Linked DNA regions of Homo sapiens. The protein of the gene in region 1 interacts with the protein of each later gene in a pairwise test. Each region holds a gene or a part of one and is shown on either strand. Other genes may lie near its edges. The genes, in order: LURAP1L, NOD2, SDCBP, ATPAF2 and CFTR.

Evidence for each region.
Region 2: the proteins of LURAP1L (region 1) and NOD2 interact in a two-hybrid assay, tested with the Homo sapiens proteins (one large-scale study listed by BioGRID and IntAct).
Region 3: the proteins of LURAP1L (region 1) and SDCBP interact in binary tests that used the Homo sapiens proteins (3 or more experiments, as listed by UniProt).
Region 4: the proteins of LURAP1L (region 1) and ATPAF2 interact in binary tests that used the Homo sapiens proteins (3 or more experiments, as listed by UniProt).
Region 5: the proteins of LURAP1L (region 1) and CFTR interact in a protein complementation assay, tested with the Homo sapiens proteins (one large-scale study listed by BioGRID and IntAct).

Annotation. Positions count from the first base shown.
Region 1 is NC_000009.12:12,820,020-12,823,580, reverse strand, and holds the end of LURAP1L (leucine rich adaptor protein 1-like), read right to left. Parts: intron 2,196-3,561; coding exon 1,821-2,195; 3' UTR 521-1,820; downstream 1-520.
Region 2 is NC_000016.10:50,717,596-50,721,115, reverse strand, and holds part of NOD2 (nucleotide-binding oligomerization domain-containing protein 2), read right to left. Parts: intron 1,192-3,520; coding exon 1,108-1,191; intron 1-1,107. UniProt on the Homo sapiens protein: Pattern recognition receptor (PRR) that detects bacterial peptidoglycan fragments and other danger signals and plays an important role in gastrointestinal immunity.
Region 3 is NC_000008.11:58,573,755-58,577,274, reverse strand, and holds part of SDCBP (syntenin-1), read right to left. Parts: intron 1,376-3,520; coding exon 1,214-1,375; intron 1-1,213. UniProt on the Homo sapiens protein: Multifunctional adapter protein involved in diverse array of functions including trafficking of transmembrane proteins, neuro and immunomodulation, exosome biogenesis, and tumorigenesis.
Region 4 is NC_000017.11:18,032,664-18,036,183, forward strand, and holds part of ATPAF2 (ATP synthase mitochondrial F1 complex assembly factor 2), read right to left. Parts: intron 1-3,520. UniProt on the Homo sapiens protein: Plays a role in the assembly of the F1 component of the mitochondrial ATP synthase (ATPase).
Region 5 is NC_000007.14:117,612,522-117,616,041, reverse strand, and holds part of CFTR (cystic fibrosis transmembrane conductance regulator), read right to left. Parts: intron 1,430-3,520; coding exon 1,329-1,429; intron 1-1,328. UniProt on the Homo sapiens protein: Epithelial ion channel that plays an important role in the regulation of epithelial ion and water transport and fluid homeostasis. Mediates the transport of chloride ions across the cell membrane.

The DNA.
Region 1 (3,561 bases):
TGTAACAGAAATTTACCAGATTGTATTCACGATCTGAAACTGATCTGAGAACAGAAATGGCCTTTCATGTGCATGGCTTGTTCAAGGCAAAGGGTAGGTTTTAAAGAAGTTAGAATTTGCCTTTGATGCCTCACACTCTTGCAGCCTGCCACTTCTTTGTAGTTGAGGATATTCTCCTTGCAAGGTTGTGGACATATGGTTACATATTTCATTATCTTCTGTTTGAAATTGGTTGGTTACATTTTTAATTTTTGTTATGAGCTTACATTTGCTTTCTCATTCCCATTTTATTATTTAACATCAATAATTACCAAAGAGGTTATTGAGTGTTATTGTTAGGAATAAGACAGATGCAAGTTTAAATCCTGGCTTTGACACTTACTGGGAGACTTGTCTCAGTGGCCTACCTTCTATGTGCCTCAATTTCCTCAAACATAGGATGATGACAGTCCTCACATTATGAGATTGTTGTGATGAGGATTATATCAAGCGACTTATGGGAAAAGATCAGTGCAAAATATAAGCCCTGATATATTTTAATTAGAAATTGAATAATACATGCCTTGGAAATAAACAATAATAAATTCAACATGTGTAGTAAATATATAATAACAAAGGAAATTTGGGTGAAACATTTCTCAGTTATAAGAAGGAAGATTTTTTGATTTGTATTATAGAGTGTTTAGTCCGGAAACATTTATCATTACAAAGAACAGCATGAAATCTTAATTAGATTCCCTCACTAGGAGTTATCAAGATAAAAGAAATGCAGAGGATTAATAACATTATATTTAAAGTAAATATCCACTGTCTATGTGCGTTAAATATTCCATTTCAGAAAACTTAGAGATTATTTATTTATACTAGGATGAATGTATATCATATTAGACTTCTTAAATGAATAACAATTCTGCTTTAGGGAAGCAGTAGTAGGATGCTGATAGTAGGCTATCGGGATATTTATCTGTCTTTCTATCCATCGGCTTGTATGCATCTAAGTATTTATACATCCTATCAGAATCACAAAATACATACAAGTAAATGCCAACAAAATCTCAAAATGCAATTAAATTTAGGACATTTTTGCCTTGAATGGCCTCCATACTTAATCTCAATTATTCCTTGAAATTTGGGAGAATAATACATTTTATTACACAAATAAACATATGATTTGAGTTAGAATCACTGATGACAAAATGTTAATCTAAAGTACCAACACAAGGGTGAGTTGGTTGAACAGAATGTGTATAGTTGGGGACTTTCAGATGATTGTCATGTGGGCGTGTGTGACTAACAGTATGGTTGATTATACACTAGAATGTTGTGGTCTAGAAATAATGCTTAATTTTGTTCCAAGCATTTTGTTCAACCTGATATGCAAACAGTAATATATCTCAATATCTTCTGGAAGATGAAACCTTAAGTCATTTAAGGACGCAAGCAGCAACATTAACTGTTATCAGACTTTGGTTTATTGTAAAATTTAGCAAAGTTTTTCTTGTAATCCCTGACCCATTGCTCTGAAAACAAAAGCAAAAACATAATTATTGCTTATTCTTTTCCCCCTACTTTGTTTGTGCTACTGTAAAAGAAGGGAGAAAATCATTGTAATAAATAAAAAATAGAGATGTAACAGAGAAAAATAAATCAGCTCAGATGAGAAGTATTAGGAGCAACAGCAATACCATTAAGCAGTTTCAAAATCAGCTTCTTTTAAAAAGGTCATCTTATTAAAATAAAAATCACACCAAAAATATAGCAGCGGAGAAGAAGGATAAATACAAGTTCATTGCACACCAGTCCCATGCAAAAAACTGTCACTAGCCAAAGCAGTAGTATTCAGAATCCAATTTAGGACGCTTGTGTAGTGCCTGTGAGTCCTCTATGAGGGAGCTGTCACTGAATTGGTCCAAGTCTGAAGGGGTCTGATGGCCTGGGACATCATCCGCCAACGTGTCCAGATAACTTCCCACGGAAATGCCATCCAGCCCATCACTGCCATCGTGTAGGCTGTTGTAGCTGCCACGTAAGGAGGTGCTCTGACTCTCCAACAAACTGCACAGGCTGCCACTGAGGCTGCTGCCTCTGCTGGTAATGGTGGCTTTTTCTTCGATCATCCACTTGATGGACTCGATGCTCTCATTGATTACAAGCAACTGGCGCATGAGCCTGACGTCTGTGGCTCTGAGGTTAACCTATGGACAAAGAGAGAAGAAAGATATTCCAGCCATTTTACACTCTCGAAAGGCCTCAAATTCATCTGGGGACTGTCTGCTGCAGTTCAGAATTTTAAATTCACAGAATAAAATATAAGTGGACTGGTTGTCAGGAACTTTTTGATAATTGCTGACTGATGGTAGGAGTTATAATAAAAAAAACTCACTTCCTGCCAGATGCATCAGGCTCCAAAAGGCACAATAAAACCCCTGCTGCATCCCTGACCCTAACCAAGTGGCCTGAACATATCATACTGAATGGCAGGTTCTCTACTACAAAATTTATTTTCTCTTTGGCCAGATTAAGTTTATTAATGTTTACGTTGGCGTATATACGTGGGTCCTGAGTCGTGGGGAGAAAAGGAAGGTGAACAAATTAAGGAGTCATCCTCAGCATCGTAGAAGCCTCTAAAAGCCTCTGATTATGGAGTGATAATGTGCCAAGCACCATCATAAAAGTTCAGCATTCATTAGCAAAATCTAATAACACTGTATGACAGGTATTATTATTTTTGTCTTCATTTTACACATGAAGAAAGATAAATCTATAGAAAAGAGTTAAGAGTACAAAAAAGACCTGTATTCTTTATGACTATATCAACATAGACAGTGCTGAATAATGCTTTTGCTTTTAAGAACCAAATTGCTCTAATATTCCCTGAATCCAAAGGATGGGTGATACACTAGGCTGATCCAATTTATGAGACGAAGTGTACAAATATTTCTGTATATCTGACTATTTGTTTCAGATATATCAGGGGCACCCCAATCAAAAGTGGGATACCAGATGTTGGGAAGGTCTGAGAATTCCCTTATGTGCCTTCTAGGTGTGTGGTCCTTTTTTTTTTTTGGGGGGGGGGGGGGGACGGAGTCTCGATCTGTCGTCCAGGCTGGAGTGCAGTGGCGGAATCTCGGCTCACTGCAAGCTCCGCCTCCTGAGTTCACGCCATTCTCCTGCCTCAGCCTCCCGAGTAGCTGGGACTACAGGCCCCCGCCACCACGCCCGGCTAATTTTTGTATTTTTAGTAGAGACGGAGTTTCACCATGTTGGCCAGGATGGTCTCAAACTCTTGACCGCGTGATCCGCCCGCCTCGGCCTCCCAAAGTGCTGGGATTACAGGCGTGAGCCACTGCTCCCGGCAGGTGTGTGGTCCTTCTGATAGCTCTAAGTTACTTCAGGGATATCTATCTCCACAGCCACAAAGCAGGGTCTCTTTGCAGGTCCCACAGTTTACTGTAAACATTTGCTAATATCAAGAGGTGGTGTTTGGGGAGGTGGTGCTGTAAGAACTCCCATGATTGTTCTGTTGGAACAGAAGAGATATGGCTCGAGTACAGAGCCTGG
Region 2 (3,520 bases), on another chromosome or scaffold:
CTGAGCTTGGGGGCCGGGTGCGGTGGCTCACACCTGTAATCCCAGCACTTTGGGAGGCCGAGGCGGGCGGATCATCTGAGATCAGGAGTTCAAGACCAGCCGGGCCAACATGGTGAAACCCTGTCTCTACTAAAAATACAAAAATTAGCTGGGCGTGGTGGTGGGTGCCTATAATCCCAGCTACTTGAGAAGCTGAGGCAGGTGAATCGCTTGAACCAAGGAGGCGGAGGTTGCAGTGAGCCAAGATCGTGCCACTGCACTCTAGCCTGGGCAACAGAGTGAGACTACATCTCAAACAAAACAAAACAAAACAAAAAACTGAGCTTGGGGGCAACTTGCCTCCCTGTGAAATGGGCTGGAACACCTAGGCCCTAAGGTTATTCTCTCTTCCTACAGTCCCAGGTTCTAAAACTCCCAGTTCTTGTCAAATGGACTCCAGTTCACACTAGGGCATGACAGGATAGGAGAGAGGCTGCTGGAAACAGCACAGGTGCAAGCCTGGGTGCCTAGCAAACAGAGGAAGCCCACCCTGGGGCTGCAGGTTGGGGTACTCCCCTCCCTGGCAGGCCCTAGCATGGTCCTACAGGGAGCAAGAGCTCCGAGGGACCTAGCACAGCCCCTCTTATCCTGGGTGCCTTCCTATCCTTCCCCATTTCCTTCTCTTTCTTAGGTCAGGGGTCCTCACCCCTGGCTGTACATCCCCTGGGAAGCTTTTTAAAACTCCTGATACCTGGGCCTTGCACCTAGATATTTGCATTTCATCAGTCTGGGGTGGGAGGCCTGGCAATAGTGTTTAGAAGCTTCCAGGTGGTTTTAATATGCAGCTAAAGTACAGCCCTAGCGCCCCCTGAGGATCAGAGGGCTTCCTGTCACCAGCTCGTGGGCACTGTCCTCCCCTAGCCCCAACATCCCAAACTTCCTGTTTGTCAGGCATAGACCAAGTATGAAGGTGGCAGTCAAGGGCCGCCCACTCTCTCCCTGGCTTGTCCTCCCCACTGGAGCTGGGCTGCCTCTGGGGCCTCCTGGCTGAAGAGTTTCACCTGCCCCTAAATCCTCAAAAGTCCCAAGCCCCTCCATGCAGGTCCCTCTTCCTGGAATCCAACCTACCCCAGGAACTGCAAGGAGGTGTTGCCTCGGAGCCCCTCGGCCAGCACTTGGGCTCCCGCGGCAGTGATGTAGTTATTCCCCAGCCTGGAAGGGAAGACAGAGGAGGCTGAGAGAACACAGCGGCAGGCAGAAAAGGAGGGCCGTCTGTGCCCTGGCCAGGGAAACACAGGAAGAAAGCATTGAAGACCTGCCCGGGAGGCAGCAGCCACATCAGGTGCCCTCGCTGCTAGGTCTAGTTTACTCAGCGGCTCCCACAACTTCATTTTCCCCCAGCAAAGGGAAAGGGGCAGCGGGACGCTGTTTGCACAGCAGTGTGACAATTCCAGGCAGGAGCCACAGTAGGCAGCTGTCCTGGGAGGTGGTTTCCCCGGGACAGCGAGGGTGACTCAGGGTCACACCTTTCCCTCTGGTCTCAGCCGCCCTCGATCCAGACCCCATCGTGCCCTCTGCAGCCTTCCCAGATCTGTTGTTGCTACAGGTAGGCTTTACCTGTTGCACAAGAGCGCTGGGCAGGTCCAGGTGGCTGGAGGGAGGGGTGGGGCCCACTGAGCCTTCCAGAAAGGAAGGAGAGAGGGAGGGCCAAGGCTAGGGGTGGGGGAAGATCCCAGCAAGGAAGGCTCCTGCTGCAACTGAATCCAGACACCTCGGAGAGCTTCGGAGAAGCCCCAGAGCTCTCACCTGCAACCCTAGGCTTCCTGGGATAACTATACGCTTTCATTCTTTCAAGGAACGTCAAGCCACTCAGCTCACAACAATCCTATAAGGCAGATATTATTGTATCCTTGGAGAAGGGGTGTGGCAGCTAGGAGAACTCGCCTTTCAGGTCTCCAGCCTCAGCTCCTTGGAGGTAGCCAAGGGCCCCAGCTGCTGTGCTCCAAAATCTAACATCCTCGCATCTGCACTTGCCAGCCCCTGCCTGAGACATCAGGCTCCCCTGCCTGGTGAATTTGGTTCAAGAACTCCTCATCAGCCTTGCCAAGATGTCTTAGGACTGCACTGAAGTCCAAGGTGCCCAGTCTCAACCTTCCTTCCTTCCCTCTCTCCTTCACTCAGGGACACACCTCCCAGCCTCCCCCAGCTCCCTTCCCCACTTCCCCTTTTAGGACTTTTCCCCAATAAATGGGTGGCACATTGAATCCCTGCTTGGAGGACCGGACTCACATAAGGAGAAACAAGCTGAGTGCTTGTGTGATTTACCCATCATCTTTCAGCCACTCGCTTACTATATAAAGCCCCTGCCAGACGGTGCAGCCCTTCATGTGGATTAACTTGCTTGCTCATCACTACAGCCTGTGAGGTAGCCAGGGTTATTACCTCCATTCTACAGAAGGGGAAACGGAGGCACACAGACATTGGGCTGACCTGAGGTCACGCAGCTAATGAGGGTTCAAACCTCGGGCAGTCTGGCTCCAGAGCCTGTGCTCTCTATTACAATGATATACGGTAATCCCTGCCCCCTGCTTATCCGCAGCTTCGCCTTCTATGGTTTCAGTTATCTGAAATCAACTGCAGTCCAAAAATATTAAATGGAAAATTCTAGAGATAAACAATTCATACATTTTAAATTGCATGCTATTCTGATCACGTGCCATCCAGCTCCATCCCACCCAGGACGTGAATCAGCCCCCCGTCCAGCGCATCCACGCTCTATACGCTCCCATTTGGTAATCATCAAGATCGTCTGCTCCTGACATCCAGCTGCCGACCTCATTGTTGCTCAAAGATTAGGGATCTCTGGGAGCAGATGATTCTCCTCCTGAAGTGTGGTCAGGTCAACAGCAGCCCAGCGCTAGAGCACAGTGCTGCATGCGTCATCCACCTCACTTCCTCCCATCACACAGGCATTTTACCACCACACATCTTCCCAAGAAGAAGGGTGAGTACAGTACAAGAAGATATTTTGAGGGAGATGGAGAGAGTCCACATTCACATAGTGTTATTATAGTACATTGATTGTTATAATTGTTCTATTTTATTATGAGTTGCTATTACTCTCTTACTGTGCCTAATTTATAAACTACACTTTATTGCAGGTGTGTAGGTATTGGGAAAAGCATGGTATGTGTAGGGCTTGATACTCTCCATGGTTTCAGGCATCCACTGGGGTCTTAGAACATCTCTCCTGCACATACCGGAGGACTACTGTGTTGGCCACAAACTCAGCCTCCATTTCTGAAACTAGCACCCTTCTCAGGGATGGGCCAGCCAGGTCTGGCCACAGCCTATTCCAGGCTTGTGAGTCTGAGGGATCAGGCAGTGGTAGCAGGACTGAGTCCTTTGTACAAATTGGCACCTGTGGTTCTGATCTCAGTAGCCCTTGCCGAGACTGAGCTATGTGGCCCGCCATTTTAAAATGGCGGCTCCCATCCACAAACCCAGCCCAAGAGGTAAAAGAATAGATGGAAGCAATTCT
Region 3 (3,520 bases), on another chromosome or scaffold:
CTACAATCCTAAGCTAGGTCACATATTTCTATCACACATCTGTTACATTGTAGAATGATAAGCAAGAACTAGGTAGCACCCCATAAATGAACAAATGCCCTTTGGCCAAGTGAACAAATCCACTGCAACTATTACCTACAGTGGGGCCAAGGGGCCTATGAAAAGTATCTTTTCTCTTTAGGACAGAGGAAAGAACACAAGAGCAATCCTGGCGGAAGGAGCAGCAGTATACTCTATTCCCTGAAGATTCTGGAGAAAGGGCAGCAAAGTCAGAGCATCCCAACTAAGCACGCAGATGTATTTTGAGTGACATACAAGTGAGCAAGGCCATCATCGATGGCCTCAGCCCCCTGGGTGGGCAGGCAGGGCGGGGGCCTCCTGCCAAGATCAGCCTCCTCCATTTACAGCAGTGCACCACACTTATAATTTTCTATGTGGAAAGGCTGGATGCACTAAGCTAGAGATGTATGACTGAAACCGAATCCAATAAGGTAATGGCTAAAACTATAAATTGGGGTAAAGACTCAACATGTCCTTCACAATTATAAATGGTTCCTCAGAGAGTAACCCTGTTTCATATCTTCAGTATGTTAAGGTGAGAGGTAATTATAAAGTAAAGGCTGCCCTAATTAGAAAGAATATTCCATCTTTTTTTACTCAGAAAATGACATATTAAATTCAAATGTGAAGGATGTTAATAACAAATCTGCAAAAACCATCTCACCAGTTAAATACTGATCATTTGGTTTAAAAATGCACACACATCCGGGAGGCAGAGGTTGCAGTGAGTCAAGATCACACCACTGCACTGCAGCCTGGCGACAGAACGAGACTCCGTCTCAAAAAAAAAAAAAAAAAGGCACACTGACATTGACTCTCATTGGAAAGTTTTTTCTTAACCTTCACATCTGCTCTATTTAATTGCCACAATTCTATTATACAAACTATAATATATGTAGGCCAGTGAAATGTATTCCAGTTAGAATATTCAGAAAAGAAACATCTTTCAAAGTAATGTGGTCAGAAGTCCCAACTATGCCTCTGCAAAATAGAACATCCCCAATTGAAAACATTTAAGTTAGTAGATTTAAAATATTCTCAACTACAGATGCACTATTATAATTAAAGCATTTCCATTTCAAATTATTTTAACATTAATCACTTATTATGTAAGAGATTTAGACAAATTCAAATAGGTATTTAAAATACTTACATTATCTATTGATTTAAGCCTGAGTCCAATTTTTCCATCTTGATCCTTACACAAAATGACTTCACGAATCCCTTGCTTAATTTCTGCTCTACGAATTCCAACATCATTACCAGTTACAGGAGCCACCATATAGTTTATACTGGAAGGTCTTGCTACCAACTGCTGACAAAACCATATACAATGTGTCAATATCTAGAAACACTCTCCTTGAAAAAAACAATGATAATTAACTGGAACTTACTCAGTTTTGGCTTTCCAAAAAGCAATCCACAAATAATTTCCTTCCGATAAAGTTTGATGTCTATGAAAATGGCACTGGCTCTACTACTAATTCTTCACTAACTTATTCCCACACATATCATCTCTAATAGATTCAATGACTCTCTGTTGCCCTTTGAATTCACTGGCATTTGTTTCACCGGTATACTGGCTTGTCTTCATCTCAAATTTATTATCTTTGAACTTAAAGGCCATATACTTTTGAAACATTTTCCAGACGGTTCATGATGTCACGATCTTTGACAATCTACTTATCCTTTCAGAATTTCCATAAAAGGGGCAAATTTCTTACCTCACTGTTACTGACAGGATTAAATGAAAAGTGCATGTTGTATGGGCACTGGCACACATAAGACAGTCAACTATTATGTCTCTTCCCCTCTAGTAACCATCTATGGATTAACAAATCATATGCACAAACCAGAATGCCCCAGAATACCTACATTAGGGACCTGTGTCATATACCATGTTTCAAGTTTCTAATTCTTTCCAGTTTTCCTAATCAAAACTGGTTTATTTTAAGTGGAACCTTTCCCCAACCAAAAAGAAAATGGAATAATATTAGGCCACTAAAAAAAGGAAATCCTGCCATTTGGACAACATGAATAAATGTAGAGAATATTATTCCAAGTGAAATAAACCAGACACAGAAAGACAAGTACTGTCTGGGTCCCACTTATATGTGGAATCTGAAAAGAGTCAAACTCACAGAAATAGAGAGTAGAAGGAAGGTTGTCAGGGGCTGGGGTTGGGCAGGGCAAAGAATGAGAAAAATGTTGGTCAAAGTGTACAAACTTTCTCAGTTATCATATGAGTACGTTCTGGAGATCTAATGTACAGCATAGTAACTATAATTAATAATACTGTACGGTATACTTGAAAGTTGCTAAGAGTACATCTTAAGTGTTCTCACCACACACCAAAAGAAATGTAACCATGTGAGATGACAGATACGTTAATAACCCTGACTGTGGTAATCATTTCACAATGTGTGTTTGTGTGTGTTTATCAATACATCAAGTTGTATTGATATATACAGTTGAATATATACAATTTATATTTGTTAATTATACCTCAATAAAGCTGGGGAGAGGAAGATCCAGATGGAACATCAAGAGAAGAAGAATAAAATATGTGAAATGAAAAATTCACTAGATATGAAGAGATAACAGAAATCTCCAGCAACAAATTAATTTAAAATAGAACAGAAGAAAAATAAAAGGCGGCGCACTGAAGAACCCTGGAGATGCAGACACAAAAATGAAGGTTATATCACCCTTCTAGGTATTTGGGCAAAGGGATCTAAGCATCCATGTAGTGAACAAAGGAAGTTCTAAATTTTAACTACAGCCTCATGATCAGTTACTAAAATAAGAATCAGAGCAGCTATGACTCTGTTCTTCTTTGTATTTGTATATTTTCTGTAAATACAGCAATTAATCTTTCTGTTCCTCTATACCTCTTTTTACCTTTATGTATGAATTGTTGGTAGTGGTTAACTTTACACTTTTGCCTTTAAATTAAAAATATTCTGTTGGGAATGTGAATACTTAGAAGGGTAATTAGTATCATATAGTAATCAATACCATGATGACTGCCCAGAGATGGCCACATTAACTGGTATCATCCCTTTCTAGAGAAAGGGTGAGAGCAACTTCATTTATATTGAAGGGTACATGGCTTCATTTTGTACACCCCTGAGTTAAAAATGATTTTTATATTTTTAAAGATTGTAAATAAACAAATAACAATAAGAATATGTGATAAAGATCATAAGTGACCATGAAAGCCTAAGGTATTTATTATGGAGCCCTTTATAAAGTTTGAACTTTGATTTTATGAAGAAATTCATCTTTCAAGGAGAAACTATAAAGTTGTTGTTGTTGTCACATGAAATTCAAATGTTTGTACAAGTGTGTGGATATACTGAGTAGTCAAAGGAGTAGGTGGTAACAGATATTAAACTACTGTTTGTCAGCTCCAAATCCACCCTTCTAGACTCTACTTGGTGATGCTGGGCCTAACTGT
Region 4 (3,520 bases), on another chromosome or scaffold:
AAAGCTCATCTCTGCACTCTCCAGCCATTTACTGTCTAGTAGGAATACAGACACTAAACCAGGCAAACAATAAGGTGACTTCTGTGATGGGGCAGGCACGTGGAACGATTAGTCAGAATTAAATTGCAACTTGAAGGTGAGGCAGGAGGTACCAAACTTTCTGATTGATTCAATTTTTTTTTTTTTTTTTTGGCAGAGCAGGGCTGTGGAAGTAGTTTCCAGATGAAGAAACAGGTTGCATGAAGGACCAGGGTTTCTAGAGAGCAGTTGTGGACTAGACAGATGGTCAGAAGGAGAATGCAAGATTCTCTAAGATGCTAGAGAGGGCAATGGGGCCACATATGGGGGACATGTAGATCACTGCAAAGACAGCAAAGGGAGCCAAGTAAAGGCTCCACACAGGCATACAGGAACTTGATCTGGGGCCGGGCATGGTGGCTCATGCCTGTAATCCCAGAACTTTGTGAGGCCGAGGGGGACAGATCACTTAAAGCCAGGAGCTCAAGAGCAGCCTGGCCAACATGGTGAAACCCTGTCTCTACAAAAAATTAAAAAATTGGCGAGGTGTGGTATTGCCTGCCTGTAATACCAGCTACTCAGGAGGCTGAAAATCAGTTGAACCCAGGAGGCGGAGGTTGTAGTGAACCAAGATTGCGCCACTGCACCCCAACCAGGGTGACAGAATGAGACTCTGTCTCAAAAAAAAAAAAAAAAAAGAACATGATCTGGACAATTCGTTTGGGGGATCCATGTTCCCCAACAATGTCACATAAGACAAAATGTGAGACCACCAGAAACCTATGAAGCTTCCATGTTCTCGGTGAATACATGGTTAGCAGACATCAATGGTAACCCTGTCTTTAAAGATGAAAAAAATCAGCCTAGCTTTGTAGGATCATGCAGAACTGGCCTTTCCTTTAGAAAGATTACCAGCCTCAGGAACCACAACTCCCACAGTGCACCAAGAAGAGGAAGTACTGGTTTCAGAGCTGTCTCAGTGCCTTTATCTTTTAAAACAGTGCCATCTGGTGGGCCTTAAACCTTAAAGGTGAAATTCTAACTCCAGGGCCATCTGTAATCCTAGGGCGGCTCTAACCAACTCTTTTCAGGTATCAAAATTCTTCAGCCCAAATACATAAAGAACTCTTACGACTCAATAACAAAAAGACAAATAGGCTGGGCATGGTGGCTCGAGCTTGTAATCCCAGCACTTTGGCTGGCTGAGGCAGGTGGATCACTTGAGTCCAAGAGTTCAAGACCAGCCTGAGCAACATGGCAACACCCTGTCTCTACAAAAATACAAAAATTAGCCAGGCATGGTGGCACGTGCCTGTAGTCCCAGCTACTCAGGAGGCTGACATGGGAGGATCACCTGAGCCTGGGAGGTTGAGGCTGCAGTGAGCCATGAACACACCCCTGCACTCTAGCCTAGGCAACAGACCGAGGCCCTGTCTCAAAAACAACAACAAATAACCCAATTTAAAAATGTTCAAGTCTGAGAGACCGAGGTGGGAAGATTGCTTGAGTCCAGGAGTTTGAGACCAGCCTGGGCAACATAGCAAGACCCTGTCTGTACAAAAAAATTTTAAAGTCAGCTGGGCATGGTGGCACACACCTGTAGTTCCCAGCTACTTTGGAGGCTGAGGTGTGAGGCTCGCTTGAGCCCAGGAGGTTGAGGCTGCAGTAAGCTGTAACTGAGCCACTTGCACTACAACCTGGGTGACAGAGCAAGACCCCCTCTCTTTAAAAAAAAACAATGGTCAAGGGATCTGAATAGACGTTTCTTCAAAGAAAATATACAAATAGCCATTAAGCACGTGAAAAGATACTCAACATAATTCATCAGAGAAATGCAAATCAAAACCACAATGAGATACCACTTCAAACCCTTTAGGACAGCTGTAATAAAAAAGACAACAACAAGTGTTGAGATATAGAGAAACTGGACCCCTCAAACACTGCTGGTGGAAATGTGAAATGGCACAGCCACCTTGAAAAACAGTCTGGCAGATCCTCCAAAAGTTAAACAGAGTTACCATTTGACCCAGTAATTCTACTCTTAGGTATATGTCCAAGAGAAATGAAAACATATGTCCACACAAAAACTTGTACATGAATGTTCATAGTAGCGTTATTCATATTAGCCAAAAGGTAGAAACGACCCTGTGTCCACCAATGGATGAATGGATAAGTAAAATGTGGCATATTTACACATACAATGGAATATTGTTTGGCAATAAAGAAGAATGGAGTCATTGATACATGATACAAGGTGGATAAAACTTAAAAACGTTTGGTCATGGTGGCTCACTCCTGTAATCCCAGCACTCTGGAAGGCCGAAGCAGGAGGATCACTTGAGGCCAGGAGTTTGAGGTCAGCCTGAGCAAGACCCCATCTCTACAAAGCACTAAAAAGCTAGCCGGGCATGGTGGTGTGTGCCTGTAGCCCTAGCTACTTGGGAGGCTGAGGCAGGAGGATCACTTGAGCCCAGGAGTTTGAGGTTACAGTGAGCTGTGATCGTGCCACTACACTCCAGCCTGGGCAACAGAATGAGACCCAATCTCTTAAAAACAAAAAAAAACAAAAAAAACCCAAACTTTAAAACATTATGCTAAGTGAAAAAGTCAGTCAAAAAAGACCACATTCTATTTATATAAAATGTCCCAAACAGGGAAATCTATAAAAGAACAAAGGAAAGTAGTAGTTGCCAAGGGATGGAAGTAGTAAGGGTGGATGATAGCTAAAGGGTGCAGGTTTCTTTTAAGGGTGATAAAAATGTTCTAAAATTGATTGTGGCAATGGCTGTACAATTCTGTAAATATACTAAAAACTATTATATTTACACTTCAAGTAAATGAATTGTATAGCAAGTAAATATCTCAATAAAGCTGTTAAAAAAATCCTTCAGGCCAAATGTATAACATTTAGCAAACTTTTTCTGCAAAGAATCAGATAGTAAATATTCTAAGCTTTGCAAGCCATACAATATCTGTTCCAACTATTCAACTCTGCCACTGTAGTGAAAGTAGCCATAGATGATATGTAAATGAATGCATGTGGCTGTGTTCCAATAAAACTCTATTTACAAAAACAGGTGGCAGGCTGGACCCTGATCTACAGACTACATAATCTCCCTCAATCCACACCACTATTCTATGAGGATGACAAGGCAGCTAATGCCTCGGAGGTGATAGAGAAGCTAAACATCTTGTCTTGGTGACAGACAACTGGTAAATAGCAGAGACAAGACTTCTAGCCTTGACTTCATCAGGCAGTTGCATTCAGCCAGATACGCTGAATAGATAGGTTTCTCCAGAACACCTGCCACTCTGGGAGTCAATAGACCTCTGATAAGCTGGTGCAGAACTAAACTGCCACAACAACCTCATATAGGTCTTCTTGTTGCAATATCTCCTTCTCCAACACCTCAGTGACCCTTTCGTAAACTCCTCCTCTCCTTCTGATAACCTTCAATGGCATGGCCATTCCTAAGTGGCCAAGTTCAATCAGCTTGCTGAC
Region 5 (3,520 bases), on another chromosome or scaffold:
GCTGAATAAATGTGTGTGGTTTGGGAACATGAACACTGTCTCAGAGAACAAGGAAAGAAACTTAAGCAAAAAGTATAATTTTAAAAAGAGTATAATAATAGTGTTGCACAGTCATTCCTAACTTGGGTTTCTAAACCATCTACAAAAGCAGTGGTGAATGAATAATTTTAAATACAGTAGTACAAAAATACTTTAAAAATTCAATGATGAAGCTATCCAGACCAACCATATAGTCTGATTGAAAAATATGCATTTGATTTTTTAAACAAAAATGAGTAAATGTGCATCATTTCCTTTAATTTCTCAGTCCCGCTGCAATGGGATTTGTGCCCCTGATATGGTATTAGCACATAAGCATTACTATAATATTAATGGCTCTGCATTCTAGAAAACCAAAACAAGAGAAATAACACAACTAAAATGTGGTCTTTGTACACACTAATAAAGTATACAAATGTGTGGCAATATTTATCAAGCAGAAAGACAGAAGGCAATGATAAACACTTTAGGAATAAGAAAGGTGCTATCACTAAATAATGTGAAAAAAATTTAAATAATAGTATGAAAATGTTATGCTGCTAAATTTGAGAACCCAATATAAGGAAGGAGTTCTTAATCAAGATACCAAAAGCACAAAACATAAAGGAAAAGACAATAAATTGAACTTTATTAAACTTAAAAGCTTCTTTTCATCAAAAGACTCTATAAGCCAAGCCACTGACTGAGGGATTATGTTTGAAATGTATAGAGCTGATGATCAATCCATAATTCATAAATTCCTACAATTTAATTAAGGAAGAAAAAACTAGGTGACAAATGAGTAATCAACATGAATAAGAAATTAATGTAAGAGAACAGCAAAAGCCAATAATTATGTATGCAGCTTCCCTATATTTTTAGTAATCACTTCACATCTACCAGACACCAAGTGTTGTTGAAGATACATAGCTATGAGAATTCTTGTACTCTCTTGATGGGGATATATATCAGTACAACAGACTTGAGGACAATTTGGCACCACTCAGTTAAGCATGGGTGAATCCTATGACCCAGCAATACAACCCCTAGGTATTTCTCCTAGAAAATCCTGAATAAGGAAACAGGTGAAAGAATGCTCACTGCAGTATTAGATCTTCATAGTGGCTATCTATGAGAAGGAAAGAAGAGATAAGGATTTAATGACAGATACACAGTGACCCTCAATTTATCTGTAATGTTTTATTTCTTAAGCTCAATATACGGTATATAGTTCTTCCTCATGCTATTACTCATACTTTGTTACTTGTCTGAATTTTTTTCATAAAAGTTAAAAAGATGATAAGACTTACCAAGCTATCCACATCTATGCTGGAGTTTACAGCCCACTGCAATGTACTCATGATATTCATGGCTAAAGTCAGGATAATACCAACTCTTCCTTCTCCTTCTCCTATAGATGCACAAAAGACGTAAATGAACCTCATGTTATTTCTCTCTTCTGTGAACGACTTTATTCACACTTCTCCTAGGGCACATATCACATTAAATTTACATTTCAATTTTATGCTAATTTTAACAATTTTTAAATCTCAGTTCATCACAGCATCTACTAATAGAATAATGCTCTGCATATAGTAAGTATTCAACCAGGATTTTAAATCAAAGAGCGATTGAATATTAGGAAAGTGTTGCCCTTTTTAAAAAATGTTACTGGTATTGGAGGTGTTGTTGGTAATGGGTAGGTACCATATTTGTCTCTTCTACTATTATTCTATAAGTAATAACGGTAACATATATTAGAATGGGCAATGGGGAAAAGAGATCCTGTATCCAGATGAGCTGCTTTACAAAGAGACCAAAAGCAGGGGAAGAGTGTCCAAACAGCATCTGCAAGATGTTTAGGTGTGTTCTGTGCCTTTGCAAGGAGGACCTTTGCTAATTGCATGCTATTGGGAAGTAAGTGGACTTAGAATTTCACCGGACAGTCAGAAAACTAACAGTTCTGCCATTTGGAAAGAGAAAAGATTACCCTCTATGCAAAAAAAAAAAAAAAAAAAAAAAAAGATTACTGTACCTGGGAAGAACAACACTTAAGTGTTAAATTACAGTAATTTTTTTTTTAGGGCTAAAGAGGACAGCTAATTAAAATTCATGTGTTCAGTATTATGGCCATAGAAATTCTCTAAGAGGAATGTTCTTAAATTATTATAAAGTTAGACTATCAAGTCCCAATCAAGAGTTCTTACATCTGTAATGCATGATAAAATTGTCAAAAGATTCTACAATTGGGAGAAATAATTCATCTTATTATTAATTGAAATTTTTGTTTCTGCAATTCCTCTAACAGAAGGCATAATATACACAGCATATATCTGCATGTAGTATTAAATTATTTTCATATAGGCAAGATTTATCTAGACCCCAATATATTACTGTTCTGAAGGTTAAGCTGAGAAGATAAAATTTTAATAATAAGTCAGATAACATTTATTTAGTATTTACCATGGACCAGGCACTATACTAAGTGTTTTGGACAAATTATTACATTTACTATTCACCCCACACCTATGGAATAGGTAATATTATTGTGTCTATTTACACTTGAGGAAAATGAGGGGCTTAGATAGTTAATTAATGTTTGCAAGTTAACACAGCTGAAGACCAATTGAGCCAGGGATAATAATAGCTGGGTGGCCAACATCCACTCCGGCTGAGCATCTGATTTGATTGGTAAGTTCTGTACTATAATGATTGTTAAATGTTTTGATTATTGCCCCTAATAAATCAAGACTCAATCACACTCAACCATGTTATAGCATGTGTTATATTGGTTTGAATTAATTGTTAACAAATCTTCATTTATGTAATTCAGCCTTCTTTGATCTTATTTTCAAATAACTTAAAAGAATTTTTTAAAGTTGCTTAAAATTACAGTACTGATGAGGATTAGTACATTTGCCTGCCCATGTATATTCCTTTCATAGAGTCATTTCCCACTGCCCTAGCTGAGAGAACAACAAAGGTGGTGAACCCACTATCCTCATAGCAGCAGAGTAGACTGCAGTTGGACCCCTGAGCCAAAAGGAAGCTGTTTTCTGTTCTCTCCAGGACTTTGAGTTTGTACAGAGGAACTCTCCTGTAAATTCAGGAGGCCAGAATGGAGACACTACATAAAGTCAATGTGGCATAGCCCTGGTAGACCAGAAAAACCAGTCTTCAGAGAGAGAAAGGAATGAAGCAACCACAAAAAGGAATGGACCCAGGACAGATATAGACTCAAGAAGAAGAGCTGCAGCTGACTCTCTTGTGCCTGTTGCAGCTTCTTTAAGAGTCGAATGGCACCACCTTCTCGGTGTTCCATGAGGCCTTTCTGTAACTCCAGCAAATGCCTGCTTTCGGTTTGAGTAGAATTCTGTTCCTACAATCAAATGATCCTACAGATTTGGCATTGATTTGGCATTTGCTCTGCCAGTATTCACTGTCACATATAAGAAGTTATTTCAACACTTATCATAAATACTCAGAAATTCAAATTCTTAAA